Linked DNA regions of Homo sapiens. The protein of the gene in region 2 purifies or fractionates together with the protein of the main gene of each other region. This does not show direct contact. Each region holds a gene or a part of one and is shown on either strand. Other genes may lie near its edges. The genes, in order: KIF26A and PLCXD2.

Region 1 (4,578 bases), on a different chromosome or scaffold from region 2:
GTGTGGGTGGGGGGACGGGATATAGAGAGTGTGTGTCCCGGAGCAGTGGAGCGGCGGGAGGCGGTGCTGTCTGCCGGCAGTGCGGGGTGGGGTTTGGGTGTTGTCCTCAGTACCCAGATCCAGATGTGGGCTGACGCCCGTTTTCATTCTCCAGGCTGCGAAGAGACGGGTAGGGGAAGCGCTTCCGGCCCCCCAGGCTGGGTGGAAAGCGACTGCAGGCTTACGGATCTCAGAAAGAGTGGAGAGCCCCTGCCACTTTATTCCATACCCCCTTGCGTTTTCGAACCCCTAAGGTCATCAACGACCCGGAAAGCCGGGAGGGGATCACCCACCCCACTTTCTGGGGAGTGCGTGCGTGGGCGGGGAGGCTTATCCAAGTAAAAGGGGGTGGGCAAAACGGAAAGGGTCACTTTGACGTACTGAGTCTCTGCGAAGGCCTCACCGTATGTGCCGGCAGCCGCGTGTCCTGGTCTCCGCCGGGTCACGACCTTCGGAGTTTCCGAGTGCGCCTCAGGCCTGGGACGCGCGGCGCTGTCTCCCCAGTCTCGGAGCCGTGTGCGCAGCGGCCGGCAGGGGGCACTCGCGTCACGGGGAGCCCGCCCGCCGCGCCCGCCTGGCTTGACCCGGGCTTTGGGGCTGACCCGGAGCCTGGCCCGGAGCTGCCTGCGGCCGCGGATGCCGGCGACATTTGGGGCCCGGCTAGGCACAGAGCAACTGGTCGCCAGGGAAGGGCGGGGGGGCGGCCTCCCAGCCGGAGACAAACAAGCAATTAATTCCGGAGCTGAGTTCCCATCTGCCAGGCCTGCTGACAACAGGTCCGGCGCACGCCCGCAGGACCTCCCGCTTCCCGGGCGGCACGGCGCGCACACCCACTTGCGGGCACACGCGCGGCTGTAAAGACACGTGCCGTTCGCAGACGCGCCGAGGCACAGATACGCCGGCGCGGTCGCTGCCCGGCTCGAGGCGCACACCGCGGCGACACTAACCCACGCGCGACAGTTAGACCTAAAGTGGCCCGCGACACGCAGAGTACGCTGGGCTTGCTGGAAAGGCGCCTGGGAGTCTCGGGGCCGGGGTCCCGCCCCTTCCTCGGCCCACCTCGCCGTGGGCCTTGGGCAAGAGCGTCCCCTCCGCAGCCTCAGTTTTCCCGCCTGTAGAGGGAGGGGCGTCGGCGCCTCCTGGGAGACGCGCAGCCCTGGTGTCCCGGGAGAGGGGCGGGAGGCGCATGCGCGCGCGCAACTAGATCCTCGCCGCCGCCCCCAGCGCCCCTCCCCGGGGCAGGGACTCACCTAACAGGTTGGGGTCCTTGGAGTGCGCGGGGCCGCGTGGGGAAGCGGGGACCCTACCCCCCCCACGCGCCGCCCAGCACTGGGCAAGGGCGGGGCACTCTCTGGGCTCCCGCCCCTCGCCGCCCGCCCCGGGAGCCCGAGCCCCGCCCTTCCCCGGCCCCGCCCTCGCCTCCCGAGCGCGCCCACCGGAGCCACCGCGCTCCTCGCGACACTCGCAGGCTCTGCGAACTTCCGAGCGGCTGGGCCGGGCCATGGGGGCGCCTCGGGGCCGGATCACGTAGCCGCGGCGCCCCCGGAGAGCCAGCGTGGCCGGGAGCGCCTGCCGGGCTCTTCCCGCGCCCCGGCCATGGTCGGCCGCGGCGTCCCTCTGTGCGCTGCGCAGCCCGCGGTACGCGCGGCCCGGCCTGGAGAGGGAGGCGGGCGGCGGGGGCCCGGGACGGCGAAGATACTCGCGGTGTGCGCTGGATCCCTGGGGGCCGGGCCTCCTGCTGAGGGTAGCGGACCCGCAGGCGGGACCTCCGGGGATGGAGGGAGTGGGTGAGCGCCAGGGTCGTGCCCAGGGCTCCTAACTTTGGCAAGAGCGTCACGCTGGGGCAGGGCGCGCAGGGGTCTGGATCCGACGGACGTCCCAGGCTCACTGTCCGCTTCCGCCCCCACACCCTGCAGGTGGCCGAGGGCGGCCCGGCCCGCGAGCCGCCGCCGCTGCTGGAGGTGTCCCCCCGAAAGAGGCTACCCGCCGGGCCCGACCAGGACCCATGCGGCAGCCGCCCTGCTCCCGAAGGCGCCGGGGCCGGCCCAGAGCAGGGCCACTCGGCCGGCGGAGGCGGCTGGTGCCGCCACTGCCACACGAAGCTGGTGGAGCTCAAGCGACAGGCGTGGAAGCTGGTCAGCGGGCCCGGGACCACCCTCCGGGTAAGTGACACTTCCTTAGGCCGACCCCTCCGAGCAGGGCCACGCCGAACTTGGGTAGAACTTGGGGCTTGGAGGGAAGCAGGGTTCCACTCCTTCCCTGCTGCTGTTTCCACAAAGAGTTATCAGCCAGGACTTCCCTTCTGCGGGCCTCAGTTTCCCGGTCTGTAACACCATGTGTGAGCTAGGGAGCTCAGCCCGAGGGGCCCTGCTGCCTCGGATGGGAGGGGCCTGGGCTGGCGTTCCTCCCCCAGCCCAGATGTCCCACAGCTGGAACGCAGGTTTGTGTGGGAGGAGGAGGGGAGAGAGCGGATGGCAGGGACTCCACCCAGGGCGGGACAGCTCCAGCCCTACCAGCAGGGAGAGGTTATTTGGTGCATTGTGGCCCTTGGGGCACCTGGGCCCCCAGCCAGGTGTCTGGAAATTACATACCTGGGGCCGGGGGGCCTGGCAGGTGAAAGGGTGGGCCACAGCAGCTGGGGGGTCCCTGCCTACTCCTCTCCCAGCCTCAAGGATAAGAACTGTTGTCCCATACCTCCTGGGATAGACTGAGGCAGTGGCCGCCCATGGGGAATTGAGTCGGGGCCCTCTGGGTTCCCCAGGCTCCAGCCCCAGGGGCAGGTGCTTGCAGGGGAGGGGTTCTCCTGGATTTCCAGCCAGTGGGCCTGCCGGCTTTGGAGGGAGCAGGGACCATTGTTCCAGGAACAATGCATGCTGGAAGTTTGCAAAGGCTGGGGGCGGGTGGGGGTCTCCAGAGGAAGCCCGCTGCCGGGCCTTCAGCCTTTATGAAAGAGTTCCTGGGAAGTCCGCATAATCCCCATTGAATCTAAATATAGTTCTCTAAGGGCTGTGGGGGTTGGAGTGAGCTGAGACCCTGACTGCCCTGTCTGGGGCAGGGCAGGGTGGGGCAGGGTACCAGTCTGGTTTCTGTCCTGGGCACCGTCTCCGGGCTCTCTGGAGTCTCGGCGAGGGATAGGATTGCTGTAGCCTCTCTCTGGCTCAGGCCAGGCGCCTGTGGGCCTGTCCTGGGGTGGGGCTGGACCCGCCCTGTCCTCTGCTCTGGACAGGCTGCAGCCTTGGCCATACTCTGTGCCCCAGTGGCCTGTATCTAGTTTAAAAGGTAGCAGGAGACCCTTGAGGGCCCCCTGGAGAGGGCCAGCCAGAGCTAAAGGCCCATCTTGCTGCCCCATTAGGGGAAACACGCCAGAGACAGGAGGGGCATTAAGATTGAGCTGGTCTCCTCATTCTTGGAGTGGGCTTGGACTGCTGATGCTGCCTGGCCCTGGGGCCATGGTCCTGGCATGGACTCGTGGAGGGGAGGGGGCTCCTGGTCACGGGCAGGCCAGGGGTCCTAGTGGAGAGGGCTGCAGGTGATACTAGTCCCTGGTGGATTCTAGGTTCCTCATCTAGGGGGGTGTCTTGGTCTCTTCTGGCAGACAGGTCTTCAGGGGAGCCCCAGACCACCCATCTCCAGCCTCCCCTGAGCTTGGCCTTTGACACTGGAAACTCCTCTTGAGTGCCAGCTGGGGGCTCCCCCTTCCCTAGCTGGCGCTGGCACTCAGCACACCGGGGTCCCGGGCTGGTCTCAGCCAGGGCTTTGTTCTGCTCTGGGCCCCCTTCTTCTGCTTTGTGGTCTCCTCTGTCACCTGGGGCCTGTTGTGAAGTGCTGTCCCACCTGCAGGGTGCTGTGCCCCCGGGAGAGAAGACCCCATCCTCCACTGTCTCTCCACAGGGCATGGGGGGCTGCACCTGCCATCCTGGGGCCTTACGGGTGTCATTGTCCTGTCCCCTGTGCGGGCCTGGGCTGTCCCCAGAGTCCCAGCAAAATTGCAGCCTGCAGCCCTGGCCTGGCCCGCTGGGCCCAGATGTGTGGACATGGCTGCTTCTGTGTTTGGGTTGGGAGGGAAATCTCTGGGGTGGCCAGGGAGACCCCAGTGTGCTCCCCGGAGTCTGGTGCACTGTCCAGTGGGCCCTGGCCTCTGCTCTGTAAGGCCAACGTGGCAAGGGGTATTTAGGGTTGGTGTTCTAGGATTTCCCCAGGGGCCCGTTTCGTATTTTTTAGGGGAGAGATGAGCTTCCTTGAGGATAGCTGTTTACAGGGAACTTCACAATCATCCATCTGTCTCATGCTTGGATCTTCAGAAGCCCAGAGAAGTGGAGAGACTTGCTGGGACCCGGCCTGGCTATTAGAGGCCCTCGCCTCCGGGCTTCCTGCCTGTCTCCGTTGTAGAGGGAGGCGTAGAGGGTCGGGGCCCAGCCTGCCAGGGTCTCCCTGCCTGTCTCCGTTGTAGAGGGAGGCGTAGAGGGTCGGGGCCCAGCCTGCCAGGGTCTCCCTGCCTGTCTCCGTTGTAGAGGGAGGCGTAGAGGGTCGGGGCCCAGC
Region 2 (3,807 bases):
CGGCTTTCCTCACAGCCCCCAGGCTTACCACCTGGCCAATTACACCTCTACAAGGAAATCCTCCCCTTCCCCCAGGCAATCTGCTTATCATGAGCCTGTGATTAACCTCATTAACACACCGGTTTACCACAGACGTCATTAGCAGTCAGTCAGACATTACTCAAAACCATTAGAAACAACAAGAACAGCCGTTACCCAGTTCAGTGCAACCAGCCTGGTGCTCCCCAGCTCTGGGCCTTGGGGAGCAGTTAGTCAGGCACCTTAGTCACGAGCTAAATGCACACCGGAAATGAGGCTGACATCCAGAGCTCTTGTTCTTGGGTGCCCGGGAGGATTACCCTCTGTGGCCAACTATCCGGGGATGGCAGTCCAGGCCTCGTGAGCATGTGCAGGGCATTCCTCCAGGAAAAGATTACTAGTGCCTGGGACAGGGAAAAATATATTCCTTTAGAAACCTTCACAGCAGAGCTCTGAATTGGGACGATCAAAATAGCAGTTTCCTATCCCACAGCTGCCTCCCAGAAACTAATTAATGCTGTGGATGTAGCTTGCTAATTATTTTCAACATCACCACCATCCTGAGCGGTCCCTGTGGAGGCCAGTTGCCTCTGCAAAGTCTCCCCTGACTCAAGTGGCACACTCCCCACTCTCCTGGGAAGGGCAGTTCCAGGCAGAGCCAGCACACACGATTGAAAGTCTATTTACCCACAAATTAGTTCAGTGTTTTTATTTCAACTCCAAAAGCTGTCAGTTTTGTAATTACAGGAGACATAACTTCTAGACAGCGCTTGCTGCTCAGCCTAAGAGTTCTCAGCCTGAGGTCCAAAGCTTCCCCAGAGGGATATGAGGGTAGAATTTAAGAAGTCTTTAAATTTGGATGGGAAAAAAAATACATATTCATTTTTACTAAAATTGAACTGAAAATTAGTATACCCATAGATTATGAGGGCAGGCGGTGACCCACAACAATCTTAGCCCTGCCTGATTTTTATCTCCCTAGATGCGTCCATCTCACATTTTGGTTATCGCAGATATCTGAGATACCACTTATGCTTATCCCTAACTCACAGTTATGGGACTTATTAGACTTACAACAAAATATTTTTATTGAATGCATTTATCATGCAGCACATACATTAATTTATTACAAACTTATTTAATATATTGATTGCTATATTTCCATATCATAGATTTTCTTTGTAATCCTGTATATTGTATGCATTCATTTAACATGTAATTCTGAGAAGGGGGTCCATGATTTTAATATACTTCCAAAGGTATTTATGCCAACAAAATTAAGAATTTTTGAGTCAGACATATGGCAAGTGCTCTGTAAATCTTTGCTGATTTCCTAAAAATATATATTAATATAAACAGTTCTTGACTTTCCACATATGATTATATTTTCTTGCCTTTTTCCTAGCAGTCCGTATAAAACGGAGGAGTTAACATTCAGCATTTTTATGGATTGCTCTCCTTTTTGTGTTTTGAATATTTCAGGTTCTTATTTTCTACCACTGTCCCTTCTACAAGCAGTACCCCTTCCTGTGGCCAGGAAAGAAGATTCCAGCGCCCTGGGCAAACACCACAAGTGTGCGCAAACTAATCCTCTTCTTGGAGACCACTCTGAGTGAGCGGGCCTCACGGGGCTCCTTCCATGTCTCCCAAGCGATCCTCACCCCCAGAGTGAAGACCATTGCCCGGGGCTTGGTTGGGGGCCTCAAGAACACGCTGGTTCATAGGTAAGAATTTGCTTCCACCCCACAAGGAAAGCTTTTTAAAAAATATTTATCTTGATTCTATTCTGAGTAAATCGCAGTAAAGCCATGTAGTCTGAGGAGTTAGAAAAACAACAAAACAAGCAAAAAACTTTGTATTCGAGAAAACCATGCAGTTGAGGTGGATTGTATTAACAAAGGCTCTCTAAACACTTTGTTCATAAGTACACATCATACCATAAATACTGTACTCTCTAAATTTTGCTATAAGGCAAAGCACATTGAGCCAACACCATGTCTGTTCACTCCTGGTACCTGGCCACATGGGGTCCTGCCTGTGCCTCGCAGCTGACCCAGGCACTCATTTAAGAAGCATTCAATATAGGCTGCTGTCCTAGGTGCTAAGGATTCAGAGCTGGCCCTTCAAGAATTTGTTCTCCTTTCCATGGTGACCATGAGTCACTGAAGAAGCAGCTTAGGATGCCACCCACCATGCCCATGCTGTAGCTTCAAATACTTCCTCAGGGCAGAATTGAGCCTGGTTGTACAATTAGATAGCAGAAGCTTCAGTAATTTTGTATCAGATGGTGTTCCTTATCCCGGACACCAATGAATGATAGATGTTCTCAAGAAAAAGGATGGTTTATTTGTATGCGTGTTTGTGTGTGTGCGCGCACATATATGTGAGTGTGTGTATGTATGTGTCTATGTACCTGTACATGTGTATGTGTATATGTATATGTATAAAAGGAATGTTATAAATACATTTGGATAACAGGGAATCCCTTGCAATCCAAGCTAAGGAAGCTAATACGTTTGGGTAGCAAAAGATATTTACAAGAATCAGTTTGGTCCCTGAGTTTCAGGTTGACGAGCAGAGTTCAGATAATGAAAGATTCATCCAAAAACATGTTTCTATTTATTTGGTCCTGAGTTTAGGTAACATGAGTTCAGATAACAGGAGTTCACCTAGCAGGAGTTTAGACAGCAGGACTAGATTTTTCTTTCTTGGTGAGAGCTCCTGATTATGTCAACCATGGACAAAACCAGAAAGTGTTTTCTGTGTGGCTCTACTAAGTCTTGACTGAATTCATTATGCTGAACTTGGAAAAGTGAATTTTATAAACCAGCACTATATCTCTTTGAAAGATCCCGAATTAGAAGCTTTATTGTTTTAATAATATGTTTGTGTATCCACACTGTTTTCCTCATGCCTCTGGTATATTTGTAGATCAACATTATTTATATATTCATTCAACAAACATTGAGCACCTAGGAAGAGCTAGGTACAAAGATTCAAGGTGAATATTATACTGTCTGCTGTCAAGGAACTCACAGTCTAGCAGCAGAAACTGGCATGAAAATTTCTATAAAGCAATGTGAAATACCACTGTGAAGAAGTCTGTGCAGACAGCCATACTAATAATGGAGAGGGAGTATTTAAAAAACTAAGGATAAGTTATATCTGTATACCATATTCTGAATATCAAATGGCTTTTTGCAGATGATTTCATTTGATTCTTAAATCAAGTCAGCCTCTAGGATGGCACATTGTCTACAGCATATTATCATCCCCTCTTTAGATGGGATTCAGGGAGCTTAAGTGACCCCAATCCATACAGCTAGTAAAAGTCAAGAATACCTCTCAGACTCTGGCCTTCTGATCGTTAGACCACTGCCCTTTTCAGCGTTGGACACTGACTTGGATACTGCATATTTTTGTGCTTATTCTTTTCTGTTCCACAGGCCTGCAGTTGTCTTATTAGTACCTGAATCTGGTAATATCTCACAGGTTATAACTAGTAACCCACAATGTCACAAAGCTTTTCATATCTGTACATTCCTAAAACTTTAATCTGGCTGCAAGTGAAACATTGGCTCTTTCCTTTATGATGAGAGATAATGATGTTGGCATGCGCCCAAAGCCAAGGGATCCTACTATGCCAGAGCCCTTGCACTACTGCTAGCAGCAAGCCAATGTCCCCAAGCTTGGAAAGATACTTTCTTTGGCATCTCGCCCCCCTGCCGGCCATAAGAATATTGCAAGTATGCATGCATTCCTAGTCCTGCACATCAACTGAAGGAGGAA

The links.
Region 1: the proteins of PLCXD2 (region 2) and KIF26A purify together in Homo sapiens (affinity purification with mass spectrometry, with the first as the bait; one large-scale study listed by BioGRID). This does not show direct contact.

Annotation. Positions count from the first base shown.
Region 1 is NC_000014.9:104,137,088-104,141,665, forward strand, and holds the start of KIF26A (kinesin-like protein KIF26A), read left to right. Parts: upstream 1-1,499; 5' UTR 1,500-1,635; coding exon 1,636-1,677; intron 1,678-1,955; coding exon 1,956-2,201; intron 2,202-4,578.
Region 2 is NC_000003.12:111,712,387-111,716,193, forward strand, and holds part of PLCXD2 (PI-PLC X domain-containing protein 2), read left to right. Parts: intron 1-1,500; coding exon 1,501-1,742; intron 1,743-3,807.